Linked DNA regions of Homo sapiens: region 2 is linked to region 1. The links come from fine-mapping of genetic effects on gene expression. A gene starts in region 1. The other region holds a variant in brackets. All regions are shown on one strand. Distances are from middle to middle.

Region 1 (10,321 bases):
AGCTGCAGCTGCAGGTGTTCCAGTGTGAGGCGCAGCTACTGGCCGTGGAGGGCAGGCTCAGGCGGCAGCAGCTGGAGACGCTCGTCCTGGTGGGCCTGGGGCCTGCGGCAGGGAGGGGAGCCGGCGCGTGGGATGCAGGGCCAGGGGAGCACGGAGCCTCAGCCCCGGCCTTCCCGACCCAACCCTTCTCTGTGACGGGCCCCAACCTAACCAAACCCCTCCTGGCAGTGGGGTGAGGGCACACGAGCAGTTCAGGGTCCCAGCAGGAAGTGGGGCTGCAGGGCCGGGGTGGGTCCTGGGCCTGGCCATCAGGCAGCCTAGCAGGTTGTTCTGGGCATGGAGGGGGCCTGGTGTGGCTGAGGGCATGCCCAGGGCTCCCTGGAGGATCCCGCTCTGTGCCCTGCCCACCCTGTGCCTGGGGAGCCCTCTGCCCTCACAGCCCACCCACCCCATTTTCTATGACCACAGAGCTCCGACCTGGAAGATGGCTCACCCAGGAGGTCCCAGGAGGTGAGTGAGACCCCAGCCAGCACGAGGCTGGCCTTCCTTCACCTGGGGTCCTGGCTGAGCTGCCACCAGGCATAGCCCCACACTGCCCGTCACATGGCCCTGCTCGGTGGGCTGGGCTGGGTGGAGGAAGAGCAGGTGGCCAAATGCTAAGGCCTCTGATGGCTCAAGGGGTAAGGTAAGGCACGGACAGTGCCCACCTCCTGGCCGCCCAATGTCCGTCTGCTGGGCACCTGAGTCTCTGAGAAGCTCTGTGCAGGGGGTGACGGCAATGGCTGCACCCAGCTGAGGGCCAAGGGCTGGGGTGGGCAGTGTGGCCGGGTCCAGTCCTTGGCGAAGTGGCCTAATGGGACATCTTGACTCTCTTTGGAAGCTCTCACTCCCCCAGGACCTGGAGGACACCCAGCTCTCAGACAAAGGTGAGGTGGGGACAGCAGTACACCCAGAGGCCTCCCAGCTTCCCCAAGTGAGGCCCATCTTCAGCACAGGCAGCCCGTGCCGCAATGCCTGTGTCAACCCCCACAACCCCCACTCCACAGACAGGGAAACTGGGGCTGGGGATAAGTAAAATGGTCAAGGTCACCTAGAGAACAAACTACAGAGCCCAGCTGGAACCCAGGGCCCCAGCTAGTGGGACAAGTGTCCCCTGGGGTGGAGAGTGTGGGGGTCTGGGCAGCCCCCATGGGCTGCAGAGGTGAGCAGGCCCACCGTCCTGAGAGTGTGGGGCCCCTCTGGGCAGCCCCCACGGGGTGCAGAGGTGAGCAGGCCCAGTCCTGGCTGCTCCAAGCTTCCTCCTGGACAGAGGGAGGTGGTAACGAGCGAACGACCAGGTGCATGAAGCTAGAAGATGGGGCGAGATGGGGCCCCACGTGGCTTGAGGGAAAGGGCTGAATGCAGGGGTGGCCAAGGGCCTGCTGTGTCCCGGTGCAGTGGGGGTAAGGCAGTGGCAGGGGCTTCTAGCGGGCAGGGCAGGCCCCCTCTGCCTGTCTGGGGGAAGGACTGGGTGGCTAGCTGGGAGCAGCTCCCGAGTGTCCAGGAGTGGGCAGTGGTGATGAGGTAGGTGTTTGCACTGAAGGTGCTGTCAGGTAGGGGTTGGGGAGGGCCCAGCAGAGGGGTCCTGGGAGGCTGCACCGGAGTTGGACAAGCTTCCTGAGTACCAGGCCGTGGCCTCCAAGCAGAGGCGGAAGGGGAAGGAGGAGCCGCAGACGGGGAAGTGAAGACCAGCGCCTTTGGCTGCAGCTCAGAACACTTGAACATGGGGATGCCAAGCCCCCATGTAGGCACAGAGGCGAGCAGGACCCAGGAGTCCGGCTCAGGCACTGCCCCCATCCCCCTGGGTGGCTGTGGCAGGAGCAGGGGCAGGTGTGAAGGTTGGAGGGTGAGCAGGGGAGGGGCTGGCTCTAAGGGGCTGCCAATGGCCAGGACAGCCCTGGCCTGGCCCTCACCGCAGTGGGGCTGAGACTGGACGTGCGTGGTTTCTGCCCAAGGGTCCTGATCCCTGGTCTGCCCAGGTCCTGGCGGTTTCTGAGGGGGTCCAGCCGCCTGAAGGTTCTCTCCCAATTGCTGCAGTACCCCTGCCCCCACTTCAGGAGGACCCAGACAGCCACTGTAGCTGTCCCCAACTCTCTCCCCAGGGCCGCCATGCCCACAGATGCTTTGGAGTGATGGGGGACGGTGCTGCTCAGGCCCAGGGTTTAAGTTCCCCCGAGGTCTGGGAGGCGTTCCTCCCTGGCAGGCAGCCAGCTCGGGGGAGGGATGGTCACTGGCGGGAGCGTTGGGCCTGGGCTGGCATCTGGCGGCCTCCTGGAGCAATGAACAGGCAAGCGAGGCCATAAGGCCTCAGTCTCATCTACAGAAAGCAGAGTCTACACTGGACCCATGTGGGGATCCCACCAGGCCTTGGAAGACAGCCCCACTGCAATGCCGGGGAGGGGTGGGGCAGCCGTGCTATACGTGGCCCAGCAGATGGGCAGGTCCCACAGGCACGACTCTCCTTTCCAGGCTGCCTTGCCGGCGGGGGGAGCCCGAAACAGCCCTTTGCAGCTCTGCACCAGGAGCAGGTTTTGCGGAACCCCCATGTAAGGCTTCCCCGGGGTGGGGTCCTCCCAGCCGTGGGCCTCAGGGTGACCGATCACAGGGAGAGTGGCTCCCTGCCCTGGGCACCCCCTGCGGTGGCCCCGACGACAGCTGAGGAGTGACCACAAGGTCTCTGCCCACAGTGCTCGGGGTGCGGTGTCTGGGCTGCGAAGTGGATCCCCCTTTCTTGGGCACTGCAGCAGCTTGGGGGGCTTTTTGGACGTGGATGTGCCTGGTCCTGGTTTTCCGAGGGCCTTTACAGTGGATGAGGAGGTGAACACAGGAGTCCTGAGAGCAAGCACCACCTCGGGCTTTGTTGTAGAAACAATGGCCCGGACCCCAGGCTGGAGCCGTGGCTTGGCCTCCTGGGTGTGTCTTGGCATCTGAAATGCAGGCTACCCACACCGGCTCACCTCCAGGGGTACAGGCAGGTCCCACAGGGAGAGCTTGGCGCTGAGCTGAGGCTGTCTGGGCTCCTCGCCTCCCAACCAGTCTGCAGTTACAGGGGCCAGTGGGGGGCGGGTGAGAAGGACGGGTTCCCTCAGGGGAGCCGGCCGGAGCCCGAGCCTTCCCCCTTCTCCAGGACGCAGGCCTGAGCAGCGGGGAGCCGCCCGAGAAGGAGCGGCGGCGCCTCAAAGAGAGTTTTGAGAACTACCGCAGGTAGGCGGGCGGCCCCCAGGCTTCTCCAAAACGGGCTGGGGAGCGGCAGCCGGGTCGCGCCTGAGACACCTGTCTTCACAGGAAGCGCGCCCTCAGGAAGATGCAGAAAGGATGGCGGCAGGGGGAGGAGGACCGGGAGAACACCACGGGCAGCGACAACACCGACACTGAGGGCTCCTAGCCGCAGCAGCGCAGGCCCCGACCAGGGCACACCCACCGGCCCGGCCTCCTGCCACCCGGGGGTGCCGACGCCCTGGGGCGCAGACTTCCCCGAGCCGTCGCTGACTTGGCCTGGAACGAGGAATCTGGTGCCCTGAAAGGCCCAGCCGGACTGCCGGGCATTGGGGCCGTTTGTTAAGCGGCACTCATTTTGCGGAGGCCATGCGGGTGCTCACCACCCCCATGCACACGCCATCTGTGTAACTTCAGGATCTGTTCTGTTTCACCATGTAACACACAATACATGCATGCATTGTATTAGTGTTAGAAAACACAGCTGCGTAAATAAACAGCACGGGTGACCCGCATTCCCGCTCGGACACTCGCGCGCAGCCCCGCGGCCGTCCCTCCTCGCTGCGGCCCGCGGTGTCCTCGGGGTGCGAGCTGCACGTGGACGCAGGGCCCCCTCAGGCCGCCAGGGGGCGGCATAGCGCAGCGCGCCCCCGACCCGGAAGACGGAAGCCCAAGAACGCCGCTTCCGCCCGGCGCCCACTTCCAAGATGGCGGCGGGGCGGGGCCGGGGCAGGGCGGACGGAGCCGGCGAGCGGGATGCTGCGGACTGCGCTGCGCGGCGCGCCGAGGTTGCTGAGTCGCGTGCAGCCCCGGGCGCCCTGCCTGAGGCGGCTGTGGGGCCGCGGGGCCCGTCCAGAGGTCGCGGGGAGGCGGCGGGCCTGGGCCTGGGGCTGGCGGCGCTCAAGCTCCGAGCAGGGGCCGGGGCCCGCGGCGGCTCTGGGGCGCGTGGAGGCGGCGCACTACCAGCTCGTCTACACCTGCAAGGTAGGCGCGCGGCGGGACGGAACCGGGGACAGACCCGTATCTGACGCTACACGGCCTGCGGGGAGAAGCGGCCCGCCGGGGATCCGGGAGGCGGCGTGGTCAAGTCACAGGAAGGAGTGGAGCCACCCCTTGGGGCTTCTGGGAGGGAGCGGAGGCGGACCATGAGGAGGGGTGGAGCCGTCCCTGGGGCGGGGCCTTCCCGGGAGAGGGCGAGGTTGGGGGTGGGTGGAGCTATCCCTCGGGGGCGGGGCCTTCTCTGGAGAGGGTGAGGTGGCTGGAGCTACCCCTAGAGGGGCGGGTCTTCCCGGGAGGGGCGTGGCGGCCCTCACAGCCTCACCAGCTACCCTGTCCCAGCCAGGTCTGCGGGACTAGGTCCTCCAAGCGCATCTCCAAGCTGGCCTATCACCAAGGCGTGGTCATTGTGACCTGCCCCGGCTGCCAGAACCACCATATCATCGCTGACAACCTGGGCTGGTTCTCGGACCTGAATGGGAAGAGGTGAGGCCTGTACCCCAGGGCTGGGCCAGAAGGCCACCCAGAAGTACCCTGGCCTCCCTGGGGGAACCTTGCCCTAGTGTTGAGGTTTATAGATCTCACCTGGGAAATCCAGCCACCTTATCAATACAAGACACACAGTTAAATGAGAATTTCCTATAAAGCCCAGATAGCTTTTGAGTTTAAGTATGCCCCAAGTAGGGGGTGCGTTTTTATTTGTTAAATTTTGCCAGCCCTGTGGCCCTGCCTCCCTGCCTCTGCCTGCCCTCTGCCATCACTGGCAGCCTTGTCCCTCTCTAGCGTGGAACTTTTTTGCCCTCTGCCATCTTGGGGTGGCTGGCCCACAGCAAGGCTTGGGGTGTGGACCAGGAGGTGTGGCCTGGGCCCTGGCTGCTGGGAGAGCAGTGGAGGTGGTGCCGGGAGCCTGGTCCGGGCCTTGCCTGGCCGGGAGGTCCTGGGCAGGACAGTAACAGCGACAGCAGGTCTGAGACCAGCATGCCAGGTGCTTGGTGGTACCTGGCCCTTGGAGCTGGGACTGTCCTCCCATCAGACCCGGGGCTGCAGATTCTTCCCTCTGGCACATAGGGGGCAGGAGCAGGAGACTGGGTTCCTGAGGCGGCGCATACCGGCAGAGACACAGGGCTGGTGAGGGCACACAGGCCAGCGTCTGAAGTGCCCGTGTGGCCTGATGCCACAGGAGTGCTGGGCCTGGTGCTTGCAGCTCTGGCCTGGCCATGGGGCGCCCTGAGGGGACTGAAGTGCAGGGCGGCTGGGGGGCCCTGAAGAGCCATGTTGCCTCCCTGCCCCCCAGAAATATCGAAGAGATCCTGACGGCCAGAGGCGAGCAGGTGCACCGTGTGGCGGGCGAGGGGGCCCTGGAACTGGTTCTGGAGGCTGCAGGGGCCCCCACATCCACTGCAGCTCCGGAAGCGGGTGAGGATGAGGGTCCCCCCAGCCCTGGCAAGACGGAGCCGAGCTGACTCCTGCGCTCCCCGGCACTGTGGGACTTCGGCCTTCCAGAAGGAGGTTTTGGCCCTGGGCCTCTCTGGACGTGGCCTGTTTTCTATCAATAAACAGACATTACTTCCAGATGCTGGGGCCTGTGGCCCTCGTGGCCTTTCTTTTTCTGGAGTTAGAACGATTGCTCTGAATCCCTGGTGCTGCTGGGTGGGACATAGGAGCCGCAGGACCTCTCGCCTCACCACAGTTCCTTCTACACAGAGTCACCCAGCTCTTGCCCACAGAGGCCACAGTCGCGTGGAAAGGGGGCTGGATGTGGCGTCAGAGCCCTTCCTGGCTGTCGCTGCGTGACTTTGAGCAGGTCACCACCCCTGTGAGCCTCAGCCTTCCTCTGCAAGGCCCTTGCCGCCCCCCTGGCCAGCTCTGGCGGCCTCCCTTCCGTGAGCCAGTGCAGACCTGAGCCCTGGTCCTCGGCCGCCGGCCGTCGGCGAAACAGTGAGCAAACCAGGCTGCCTGCTGGCCCAGGCAGGACGAGCAGCTATGGCGTGGCCGTGTGTTAGGAGCTCCAGACCCCTCCCGGGGGAGCCACCTGGGCCTCCTTCCCTCGGTGGACAGCGCTCTGGACGTCCCCAGGGCCCTCCGAGGTGTGTGGGGTTTGTCTCCCAGCCTTGTCTGTGCGCAGGATGTTCCCGTGTTTATGAAAGCGAGCAAACACAGCAGCCTGTTTATTTGCAGAAGCGTTCTGGGCAGCGTAACCTTCAGCATTCATCACCCGCCACACTCCGGCAGGGAAGAGAATGGGGCGAGGTGGGAGGTGGAGGCAGGACTGAGCACGACAGGGACCCAGTGCGGCCCCTCCCAGCGGGACACGGCCAGGACTGCCAGCTCACATCCGGCCCGTGGGAGGCCGGGGCGCGGCGGCATCGTTCCCAGTGTGCTTGTGGCGTGGGCTTTGCCTCGATTACCCCCTGTCCTTCTTTCAGCCAACAACCCTCTATTATTCCCACCCAGAGCCTTCTGTGCCATTTGTGGAAACTGTCCTCTTCTCGGCTGAGCCACCGGCACCCAGGCCTGCTCCTCCATGGAGGCACTGGCTGGGGGTCTCTTGGGGGCTTGGAAGTGCAGTGGGGCTGGGCTTGGCTTGGCTGCCTCACTGCCTCCAGAGGGCCTGGACCAGCATGTGGGGAGGTCCAGGGAGCCGTCTGGACCTGGAAGTGCAGAATTAGAGCAAGGAGAGCCGCTTGGGCCAACCCCTCCTCTTACGGATGGGGAGATGGCGGCTGGTAGTTGGGATGTGGACGTTACCATGTCTTTTCTGTCTGATGCCAGCACCTCTGGGCCCAGGCTGGCCCTGGAGGGAAATCCTTCCCAAGGCTGGCACGTTCCTAGAGAAGACCTATGGCTACCCCCCGCGTGCCAGAAGCATCCCGCCAGCTCCTGCCTGAGGCCCCCTGGACCCTGTCTCCCTCCGCCCTTCCCTCCCCGCAGCCCCAATCCCACAGCCAGGTTTCTGCAAGGGGCTTTGCCATCCTAATCTCCTGCCACTCTACACCCCCCCGCCCCAGGACATCCCTGCCTCCCGGGCACGGTTGCTGGCCTGGGCATCCCTCGTCACAGCGTCTCTCCAAGCAGGTTCCTCGGCCGCACCTTCAGAGGCTGTCCCAGCCAGTAGCGTGGGCGGCACTGCTGCGCTTCCCTGGCTGTGCGCGGTCCTGGGCCCTGCACGGTTACTTGGACCCTGTGTGCGTGTACCACCACACGCAAGCTGGCTGGGACCCTGGACCTGGAGTACACGTTGATTCTGGTTCCCAAGGCCCCTTCTGGGGTGGAGGAGGCAACGGAGTCAACCAGCACAGAGGCTGTGGCTGCCAACATGGCCAGGTGGGCTGTGGCGAGGGGCAGCAGGACTGCCCGGCGCACCTGTGTGTCCCCTGACGGGGGCCCCGTGGGGGTGCCACCCACCACAAGCAGCGCCCAGACAAGCCCCAAGACTGCAGATCTGCCGTCGGCTCCTCCACTGTGGCTCAGTGTCCAGACCCTGAGCCCAGCCGGATCAGACTCCAGGAAAGGACCTCCCTCCCCCGGGTGCTGGGTGGGCGGCAGCAGGCTGGGTCCTCAGGGGGTCGTGGGGCTGACCTGGGGGCTGCTGCTTCTGGGGGCTGGTCCCGGCCACGTGAGTGTCAGCTCAGAGCATGCTCTGTTTCCCTAGGGGCTGGGAGCGTGAGGAGGTAGGGGTGCAGGAATCAGTGGTGACAGCAGGCAGCCACTTCACCCCTCTGTGCCCCAGCTCCCCCGTGGTTAAATGCAGTGGGAACTCCATCTCTCTGAGGTCTCAGAGGGCCCAGACAGTGGGTATCTGTGGACACTTTGCACAGTGCAGCCTCTTACCGGGTTAGGCCCCCACCCGGGACTAAGCCCATACGGACCACACTCACTTGGCCGACTTTATTTTTCAGGAAAAACAGAAAAACAAATGTACCTCTTGGGTTGGAAAGGACCCATTGACAACATGGCACAGACGTGAGCAATAAATACGCACATACATTCAAGTATGCGGGGGGGCGCTACGTCCTGGAGACCCTGTGTTCGGGCACCTGTCCCTGCTCTCGGGTGCGGCCCTGCCCCTCCAGAAGCAGGTCACCTCACCAGGCCCAGATCTGCCTCTCCATCCTAGCCTGAGAGTGGGGCCTAGAGGCACCCTCCTAGATGGAACTGCCAGCCCTGGGGGCTGTGGGGCCATGGTAGGGCCCTTGGCAGTCTTGGGAGGTGCCAAGGCTGGGTCTGGACAGGAGGAGGCAACCTCAGGCCCCTGGGGCCCATCTCAGGCTCCAGCAGGTCCTGCCAGTCCTAGGATCCCGAACTTGGTGCCCTGTGAGCCCCCTCCCCATGGAGAGAGCAGTGATGTCATCTCCCCCAGCTGGTGGGAGGAGGGGGGTTCTCATATGGGGGGTCTGCAGGGTTGAGCTGAGTGAAGCCTCCCCAGCTTCCACTGACCACCCCCCCACTTGGGTGAGGGTCACAGAGCCTGGTGCTACCTCCCACCCTGACTGGGCACTGCTCTTGCTGCCAGTAAGCATCCCTAGGACCAGGCCCTGCCCTTTTTCCTGGCTTGGGGTTTTGGAATGTCGAAGTTCATGCCCAGCCATTCCCTCTGCTTTAGAGATAGGCCCGGCTCCTGTCGAGGCCCCTGCAGGGCCCTGGGACTCGGCGGGGGGCACCTCAGGGCTGCCACTGCAGCCTGGTCTGCCATGCGTGGTCTGGGGGGCCTTCTGTGGTTGCTGACCTCTGGCCGGGGAGTGGGGAGACAGGCTTGGAGGGAGCCCTGCCCCAGGACGAAGCTGGAGGGGTGGAGCATGCCTGTCACACGGCCATCCCAAGACCAGCTCTGGGGGGACAGAACATGGCCCTGTCCTTGGTGGCCCCAAGAGGCGGCTCAGAGACACCTTTGGGGAGGGTGGGGGAGACAGCAGGGTTTCACATTTGGCAGGGCAGGGCAGAACGGGAAGGGCTTGGGGGAGAGGATGCGGGAGTCTGACAGCACCAGGTCGGGGCCGACATGCCGAAGGCCCCGTCCGGCCTGCGGCAGGGGCAGAAGGGAGGAAGCTGAGGGCCATGGGGGCCAGCCCGGGATGGAAGCACGCCCTCCCACCACGGGCAGCTTGGCCTGAGCCTGTCGCCCTGGGTCGGGGAGGCCGTGGGGCTGCATGCCCAGTGCCTGTCCTCGGCAATGGCCTCGGGAGGACGTGGCTGTGACTGTGAGACCGGCGTCCAGGAGTGGGGGCAGGGTGGGCCTGGCGGTGGGCACAGGGCCTTAGCTCGCACCAGGCTGGCACTGCTGCTGGGGCTCGGGCGGGCCGCCTGCCCCCTGCTCCGGGCCCCCGGCGAGGTCCACCCGCTGCTCGTCCATGCGCTTAGCCTGCACCCTCTGAATGAGGCTGAAGAAGTCCTCGTCCGGCATGGTAGGGCCCCGGGGCAGTACGTCAGGTGGCGGGCAGCGCTGGTCATCGATCCTGGAGGACTGGGTGGACACAGTGCAGTTGGCGGCCTCACCCCCCCAGCCCCAGTGGTCCGGGGCTGGTCAGCAGCGGTGGTTCCAGAGGCCAGCGTGCACTGTTCACGGGCTTCCCCCTGTCCACCCAGGAAATTGGTTCTGGGGCCTGCCTCGCTCTGGGGTCTTGTGCTGGGAGCCCGGGCCCTGAGCGCAGTCTTCTGGTGGCCCCGCCACCAACCCGCAGGAGCCCAGGGCAGGCCCGCCCAGGAAAAGCAGGTCCAGCGATTCCCACTGGGCATGGGTGTGCCAGGCCCAGGAGACAGTGGCTAGGGCGGCGTTGGATGCCTGCTCCCCACATCTGCTGATCCCCAGGGACGGGCATGCGTGGCCGTCCCTCTGCCCAGCCCTGGAAACCAGCACAGCCTGGGACTGACCCTGGCAGGCCTGAGGTCTCAGCTTCCAGAGCCCGAAGTGTGGCGCCCCCCAGGGCTTCCCCTTGTGTCAGGTGGCTGACCCCGTGGGCCTCGCCTGCTCCAGTGTGCAGGCCAGGGGGCCAAGGGGTTGTCTGGGCTTCTCTGAAGCGCCTGGAGCAGGAGGGACGGGAGCTGGCGCAGGCATGCGTGTGGATGGGGGACT
Region 2 (8,000 bases), 25 kb before region 1:
CCAAAACTGTTTTTAAGAAAAAGGTATGTTCTCTGTAAGTAGGGCCTACTCTATATCAGCTATTAAATTGAGTTTGCCTTTAAAGATGCTTAATTCTGCCGGGCACAGTGGCTCACCCCTGTAATCCCAGCACTTTGGGAGGCCGAGGCTGGCGGATCACCTGAGGTCGGGAGTTCAAGACCAGCCTGGCCAACATGGAGAAACCCCGTCTCTACTAAAAATACAAAATTAGCCGGGCGTGGTGGCGGGCATCTGTAGTCCCAGCTACTCGGGAGGCTGAGGCAGGAGAATGGCGTGAACCCGGGAGGCGGAGCTTGCGGTGAGCGGACGTCGCGCCACTGCACTCCAGCCTGGGCGACAGCAAGACTCCGTCTCAAAAAAAAAAAAAATAAATAAATAAATACAAATCGGTTTTTCTTCTATGTATATTTTACTGCTACATAGTTTGGTACACATAACTTTTTTTAATCGGGGTCTGCTTTCTTTTTTTCTTTTTTGTTTTTCATATTTTTTGAGTTCAGGGCTGTGTGTGCAGGATGTGCAGTTTGGTTCCGTAGGTGAGCGTGTGCCATGGTGGTTTGTTGCATAGATCAGCCCATCACCCAGGGATTCAGCCCAGCTTGCGTTAGCTCATTAGCTCTTTTTCTTTCCTTTTTTTTTTTTTTTTTTTTTTTTCAAACAGAGTCTCACTCTGTCGCCCAGGCTGGAGTGCAGTGGCACGATCTCAGCTCACCGCAAGCTCCGCCTCCCGGGTTCACGCCATTCTCCTGCCTCAGCCTCCCGAGTAGCTGGGACTACAGGCGCCCACCACCACGCCCGGCTAATTTTTTGTATTTTTAGTAGAGACGGGGTTTCACTGTGTTAGCCAGGATGGTCTCAGTCTCCTGACGTTGTGATCTGCCGGCCTCAGCCTCCCAAAGTGCTGGGATTACAGACGTGAGCCACCGCGCCCGGCCCATCCCTGTATTTTCAGCCTTTTAACAAATCGTCATTTCCAAGTGTTTTCATGAAAGCAGCGTGCAGCTGGGTTTTGCTTTCCCACCCGCCTGACCAGCCTCTGGCTTTGTGGGAGGGTGGGTGTTCCTGGTGTCCTCCTGGGTCTGGTGTGTCGAGTCCGTTTTACTTTGTGGCCTCTTTTCCTTCCACTCTGTCTTGCTGGTTTGATGAAACTGTAAGTCCGGTTTTTCTCCTTGTGATTTTTGGGAATTCAACTGTCTTCCATCCATTAATGGCTTTTTCTCCTTCGAACACATAGTCAGACATGCTTCTCTGTTAATATCAGAAAGCGTGACGCCAGCACTTTCCCCCGCCAGATTCTTTCTCCTTCCAGGGAAGTGTTTTTAGTCACTGTCAAGAAAAGCCAGGCTAAGGCCTCAGCAGCCTCCCTCCAGCTTCACTCCAGCCACCCTCCAGCCCCCTTTGAGAGCTGCTGCTCTCAGCTACCCGAGCAGGGCCCAGCTCTGAATCCCGCCCCACCCCCCAGTCCTTTGCCTTCCCAACTCCTTCGGCAGGCTTGGGATGGGTGTGAGAAGGGTCTCTCTTTCCACTGGTTGGGAAGCGCCAGCTTGAGTGTAGGAGGACGGGTGAGGCCTTGAGTGTGTTATGTTCCCAGAAGCACTCTCTTGGGGGCGTGCGGGCGAGGCTCACACACGTTGACTAGGATTGCCCTGCAGCTTGCACACCCCGGGGTGGTGGTTTTGTTTGTGGTGAACGAGTCTCAGATAGACCTGTGATGTAGCGAGCTGGGAAGGACTTGGTGGGGAAGAAAGCCTTGGAAGCAAAACTCACAGCTCAGCGGCACCACATCCAGCTCTGCGTGCCCTCTGCCACCCAGCAGCTCACTTTCAGAAAAAGCAAACCTCACAGCACGTCCAGCCCCACGCGCCCTCTGCCACCCAGCAGCTCACTTTCAGAAAAAGCAAACCTCAGAGCATATCTAGCCCTGTGTGCCCTGTGCCACCCAGCAGCTCACTTTCAGAGAACAGGGTTCAGGTAGCACTCATCAGCTCTTGGAAAACCCCTTGAGAAGATGAGTGAGGAAAAGATTTGGGCAGATGGTCCACTGTGTGGACTGAGGGTGGGTTTGCTGAGCCGAGCCACACAGGGAAGCTGGGAGAGTCATTTTGGGGCACTCTCTTCTGAGGGCGTCTCCTGAGACATGGACACCAAACCAAGGGCTGTCCCGTACCTCCTCCACCCCATACCCCTTAGCTGAGAGATACTCTAGAGCTCGAGAAGGGAGAGAAGGTGCTAGCAACTGCATTTAGAGAGCATGCCACATGCAGAGCAGTGCGTCTCCCAGCCCTTGCCAAGCTGGGAGTTTCTGTTGAGTGAGTTGCAGTGTGGTTTTGGAGTCATATCAGTTTACCTATTGTGAATTTTTCTTAATATTTTCTTAAGTGAAGGTTTGATTCCTCTCTCACCTGGTCCTTCCTGGTCCTATTTAGTGAGTGTATTGTCTTCCTACCGTGGGGTGCTCTCCATCAGCCCACAGGAGTCTGGGAGGAGGAGAGCTGGGGTCTGCAGAAGGGTCACCCCAGTGGCTCATGGGCCCACCTGTGCCCTGGGGCACTCAGAGCCAGATCTGGACATCCTGCCGCGCAGTAACACTCATTTGCTTTTGTTTGGGCCTGGGAAGACCAGCCGCAGCGCCTTCCAGTGCCTGCAGAAATTCCAGCAGCACAACAAAGCTCTGAAACGCAAGGAGTGGACAGAGGAGGAGGACCGCATGCTCACGCAGCTGGTGCAGGAGATGCGCGTCGGCAGCCACATCCCCTACCGCAGAAGTGAGGCCCCTCCACCCCGACGGCTCTCAGGCTGTCACAGGGCCCCATATCAGGACACTGGAGACTTGCAGGGAAAATTCACAGAGAAGCAACAAGACAGACGAGGGCTTAGACAGTCCTGGCTGTTCCACAGTTCGCTTCTTGGTGACTCAAGTGACTTTTTTTTTTTTTTTTTTGAGATGGAGTTTCACTCTTGTTGCCCAGGATGGAGTGCAACGCCATGATCTTGGCTCACTGCAACCTCTGCCTCCCGGGTTCAAGCGATTCTCGTGCCTCAGCCTCCCAAGTAGCTGGGATTACAGGCATGCGCCACCACGCCCAGCTAATTTTGTATTTTTAGTAGAGACGGGGTTTCACCATGTTGGTCAGGCTGGTCTCGAACTCCTGA[C/T]CTTAGGTGATCCGCCAGCCTCTGCCTCCCAAAGTGCTGGGATGACAGGCATGATGCCACTGCACCTGGCCAAAGTGATTCTTTTCTATGTGACCCATCTGGAGGGTGGGTGTCTCGGCCCCACGGGACCCTGTTGTCCCTAGCTGTCTACTCTATGGAGGGTGTGTGTCTCGGCCCCACAGGACCTCCCTGTTCCTCTGTCCCTAGTTGTCTACTATATGGAAGGGAGAGACTCCATGCAGCTGATCTACCGATGGACCAAGAGCTTGGATCCTGGTCTGAAGAAGGGTTACTGGGCCCCGGAGGAAGATGCTGTAAGTGTGCGGGACCCTAGGAGAACTGGGCTCTGGGAAGGTAACGCGGCTGTGTTCAGCGGCTGCTGTGCCCCAGTGGTCCCTTCTCTGACTGGGTTCAGGGTGGGGAGGCTGCAGCCGTACCTGCAGAGGCTTCACTTGTCTGCCTGTCCCTTCCTGCAGAAGTTGCTTCAAGCTGTTGCCAAATACGGGGAGCAGGATTGGTTTAAAATCCGGGAAGAGGTGCCAGGTAGGAGCGATGCCCAGTGCCGAGATCGGTGAGTCGCACAGCGCTGAGCGAGGGAGGGGCCCGTGTGGGTCACTGACCAGGTGCACTCTGGTGTGGGCTGTGGGCGGGCTGGGGGACAGCGGCCAGCGCTGGGCGAGGGAGGGGCCCGTGTGGGTCGCTGACCAGGTGCACTCTGGTGTGGGCTGTGGGCGCTTGCTTGCCAGGGTTGGCCCGGCTGAGCTGTGTTTTCCAAGCCTGACTTCTGTATTGCTGTCTGCCGGAGCAACGCATGGGCTCCACTTGAGACAGCTCCCTGGGCGGCTTTTCCTGACCCTAGTTGTCTCAGTTCTCTCAGAATGCTGATAGGCAGGACCTCTGGGCACACAGCTGCAGCTCCCTCCTTTTCCTGCTTATTTTCCTTTCAAAAACAGCTTCGTTGAGATAATTCACACACCATGCGATGCGTTCATTTAAAGTGTATATTTCCGAAGCTGGGCGCAGTGGCTCACGCCTGTAATCCCAGTACTTTGGGAGGTCAAGGCAGGCGGATCACTTGAGGCCAGGTCAAAACCCCGTCTCTACGAAACCCCATCTCTACTAAAAGCACAAAAGTTACCCGGGCATGGTGGGGGTGGCGCCTGTAATCCCAGCTACTTGGGAGGCTGAGGCAGGAGAATCGCTTGAGCCTGGGAGGTGGATGTTGCAGTAAGCTGAGATCACGCCACAGCACTCCAGCCTGGGTGACAGAGCAAGACTGTCTCAAAAAAATATTAATTAATTAATTAAAATGAAGTGTAGAAGGCCAGGTTCAGTGGCTCACGCCTATAATCCCAACACTTTGGGAGGCCGAGGCCGGCGGATCACCTGAGGTTGGGAGTTTGAGACCAGCCTGACCAACATGGAGAAACCCCGTCTCTACTAAAAATACAAAATTAGCCGGGCGTGGTGGCACATGCCTGTAATCCCAGCTACTCGGGAGGCTGAGGCAGGAGAATCGCTTGAAACTGGGAGGCGGAGGATGCAGTGAGCCGAGATCACGCCATTGCACTCTAGCCTGGGCGACGAGTGAAACTCCGTCTCAAAAAAAAAAAAAAAAAAATGAAGTGTAGAGGTAGAGGTCAGTGGTTTTTAGTATTTAGTATTCATTGAGCTGTGCAGCCATCACCACAATCAATTGTAAAACATTTCATCACCCGAAAAAGCCATTCAACGACAAAAACAACCCAATCTAATCGCGGGCAAAGAACTTGAGTGGCCGTCTCTCCAAAGAAGATGCACAGATGGCCAGTGAGCACATGAAGAGATGCCTGGCGCCATGAGTCATTAGGGAAGTGCAAGTCAAAACCACACACGCGTTGGGATGGCTGTTAATTAAAAAAAAAAAAAAGTCACCGTGTTGGCAAGGATGTCGAGAAATTGAAACCTTTGTGCGTTGTAAAATGGTCCAGCCTCTTTGGAAAGCATGGCAGTTCGTCAGCGAGTTAAACATAGAATTATACCCCCAAGATTGATAAGCATAAAACCCAAAAGAATCGAAAGTAGGAGCTCAGATACAACAATGTCCACAGCAGCATCATTCACAAGAGTGAAAGGCCGGAAGCAGCCCAAGCATTCATCAGCAGATGAGTGGAAAATAAAATTTTCATACAAGGGAATATTATTCGGCCTTAAAAAGGGGTTGGCAGGGCTCGGTGGCTCACGCCTGTAATCCTAGCACTTTGGGAGGCCAAGGCGGACAGATCATGAGGTCAGGAGTTCAAGACCAGCCTGGCCAATATGGTAAAACCCTGTCTCTACTAAAAATACAAAAACTAGCCACACATGGTGGTGGGCACCTGTAATCCCAGCTACTCGGGAGGCTGAGGCAGGAGAATCACTTGAACCTGGGAGTTGGTGGTTGCAGCGAGCTGAGATTGCGCCACTGCACTCCAGCCTGGGCGACAGTGAGCCTCCGTCTCAAAAAAAACAAAAGGGGGGGGAGTGGGATTCTCATATAAATACCGCGTTTCTGTAAATTCTGATACAACATGGATGAACCCTGAAAACATTCTGAACATTTGCTTGCACTTTTTTACATAGATATCTGTTTATTTCTCTCAGCTATATCCTGCGAGTGAAATTGCTCGGTCCGGGTAACGCTGTGTTTAACCTTTTGAGGAATGGCCAGACTGTTTCCCAAAGAGGTTGAACCATTTCGTATTCCCACTAGGAATGTATGAGGGCTCCGGTTTTCCACACTCTCACCAGCACTTGTGATCTGTCTGTGATTCTAGCCATCTTAGCGGGTGTGAAGTGGTGTCTTGTGGTTTTGACGTGCGCTTCCCTGTGGCTGATGTGGAGCCTCTTTTCATGTGGTTGGTGACTGTTCATAGAAATAGGTTTTTAGAGAAGTGTCTGTTGAAGTCCTTTGCCCATTTTTGACATTACTTGTCTAGTTATGACTGACTTGTAAGAGTTCTTCATATGTTTCAGATATAAGTCCTTTATCGGACACGTGACTTGCAAACGTTCTCTCCCAGCCTGTACACTTTCTACTTTTTTGATGGTGTCCTTTGGGACACAAAAGCTTTAGCTTTTGATGAAGTCTACTTTATCTGTAGTTTTCTTTTGTTGCTTGCGCCTTTAGTGTCATATCCAAGAAACCATTAAAGAAGCTTGGGGCAGCAGCGGGCGGCGTCTCGGCATCTAAAACGTTCTTTGCTTTTCATGTCACGTTCAGGTATCTCAGGAGATTACATTTCAGCTTGAAAAAGGGTCGGTGGAATTTAAAAGAAGAGGAACAGTTAATTGAATTAATAGAAAAATATGGTGTCGGTAAGTTGCTGACAGTTTGTTCTTCTAGTTTCTTTTTTTTGTTTTTTGTTTCTTAGAAAAGAGATCAAGATAAAGACAGAGCAAGCTCTGTCGTCCAGGCTGGGGTGCGGTGGTGCGACCATAGCCCACTGCAGCCTCAAACTTTTGGGCTCAAGCCATCCTCCCGCCCCAGCCTCCCAAGTAGCTGGGACTGCAGGTGTGTGCCACCACACCCGACGAGCTGAGTGTTCTGTAGCGAAGTCTTTGCTTATATTTGCAATGTCCCCTTAGAGTAAATCCTAGCTGTGGTATTGCCACGTTCAAGGACACACCAGATACTGTGGCTCTGCCCTGTGAGAGCAGCACCCGTGCTCCTCCTGCTGCCCCACACTGTGAAGAGCGGGAATCGTGGGAGGTGGCTGGTGCGGAAGCCTGGGGGGAGCAGATATGTGAGGGCCGTGGTGTGCGCTTAGGACGATTTTTCCTTCTCAGTTACATGTTTGGCAGAACTTTCCTAAGGGGCTGAGCATCCAATGAGAATCAGATGCTGCCAAATTGTAGGCACCCAACATGCTTGACCCCCCAGCGTGAGAGTGCACAGGAGGCTCCACTCTGATGGGGCCACGGCGAGTCTCCTGGGGAACAGCAAGCCTGTCCTGGGGAAGAATCTTTGGATGAAGGCATTTCCATGGGGTTTGGCTTTTGCAGGTCACTGGGCAAAAATAGCTTCTGAGCTGCCCCATCGGTCTGGCTCCCAGTGTCTGAGCAAGTGGAAGATCATGATGGGGGTGAGCCACTCGCTCCTTCTTTATCTGAAACCAGACAATGGCCTGGTCAACTGGGGGGTCCAGCAGGCAGGAGGAGGGGAGGGGAGGGGGGCGTTCGGTTTCTGGTCTTGGCATTTCTTCTTCTGGGTGGCCAAGGGCAAAGGGAGACCCTGCCTCGGCAGCGGCTGCTCTTGACCCCGGAGGCGCCCCCGCTTGGGCCTCTCCCCAAAGGGCTGGCCTGCTTGCTGCCATCATGGGTGAACCGGGCTTGCCAAGGCCTCTAAGTAGCTCTTTCCTCCCCTCAGAAGAAGCAGGGTCTCCGGAGGCGGCGGCGGAGGGCCCGTCACAGCGTCCGGTGGAGCTCTACCAGCAGCAGCGGCAGCAGCAGTGGCAGCAGTGGAGGGAGCAGCAGCAGCAGCAGCAGCAGCAGCGAGGAGGACGAGCCAGAGCAGGCGCAGGCCGGGGAGGGTGACAGAGCGCTGCTGTCCCCACAGTACATGGTCCCGGACATGGACCTGTGGGTTCCTGCCAGGCAGAGCACCAGCCAGCCATGGAGAGGAGGGGCAGGGGCCTGGCTGGGAGGCCCCGCTGCCTCCCTCAGCCCTCCCAAGGGGTCCAGTGCCAGCCAGGGCGGCAGCAAGGAAGCTTCCACCACAGCCGCGGCTCCTGGAGAGGAGACGAGTCCGGTGCAGGTCCCTGCCAGGGCCCACGGCCCTGTCCCGAGGTCTGCCCAGGCCTCCCACT

Evidence for each region. PIP is the estimated chance that this variant, and not a neighbour inherited with it, causes the effect.
Region 2: its variant is the best candidate, but not a certain one, in a credible set for the expression of DNLZ in spinal cord (GTEx, PIP 0.54).

Annotation. Positions count from the first base shown.
Region 1 is chr9:136,357,405-136,367,725 of GRCh38, reverse strand. DNLZ (DNL-type zinc finger) reads left to right here and starts at 3,982. Exons shown (of 3, transcript NM_001080849.3): 1 at 3,982-4,239; 2 at 4,598-4,737; 3 at 5,546-8,243. The coding sequence starts at 4,012. The coding sequence ends at 5,714. CARD9 (caspase recruitment domain family member 9) reads left to right here. Exons shown (of 13, transcript NM_052813.5): 8 at 1-89; 9 at 469-510; 10 at 881-926; 11 at 2,509-2,585; 12 at 3,167-3,243; 13 at 3,325-3,770. The coding sequence ends at 3,424. It overlaps LOC124902309 (a long non-coding RNA gene), which reads right to left and starts at 4,357. Exons shown (of 2, transcript XR_007061863.1): 1 at 4,274-4,357; 2 at 1-102. GPSM1 (G protein signaling modulator 1) reads right to left here. Exons shown (of 14, transcript NM_001145638.3): 14 at 8,125-9,712. The coding sequence ends at 9,506. RefSeq lists enhancers at 1,625-2,514, 2,515-3,405 and silencers at 3,617-3,716, 3,747-4,246, 4,347-4,626.
Region 2 is chr9:136,383,230-136,391,229 of GRCh38, reverse strand. SNAPC4 (small nuclear RNA activating complex polypeptide 4) reads left to right here. Exons shown (of 24, transcript NM_003086.4): 11 at 2,639-2,786; 12 at 3,382-3,488; 13 at 3,651-3,745; 14 at 6,416-6,510; 15 at 7,198-7,277; 16 at 7,562-8,000. Among named protein-coding and RNA genes, the nearest start is that of SNAPC4, 13 kb to the left of the region's middle. The variant C/T (reference allele first, on the strand shown) is at 3,175.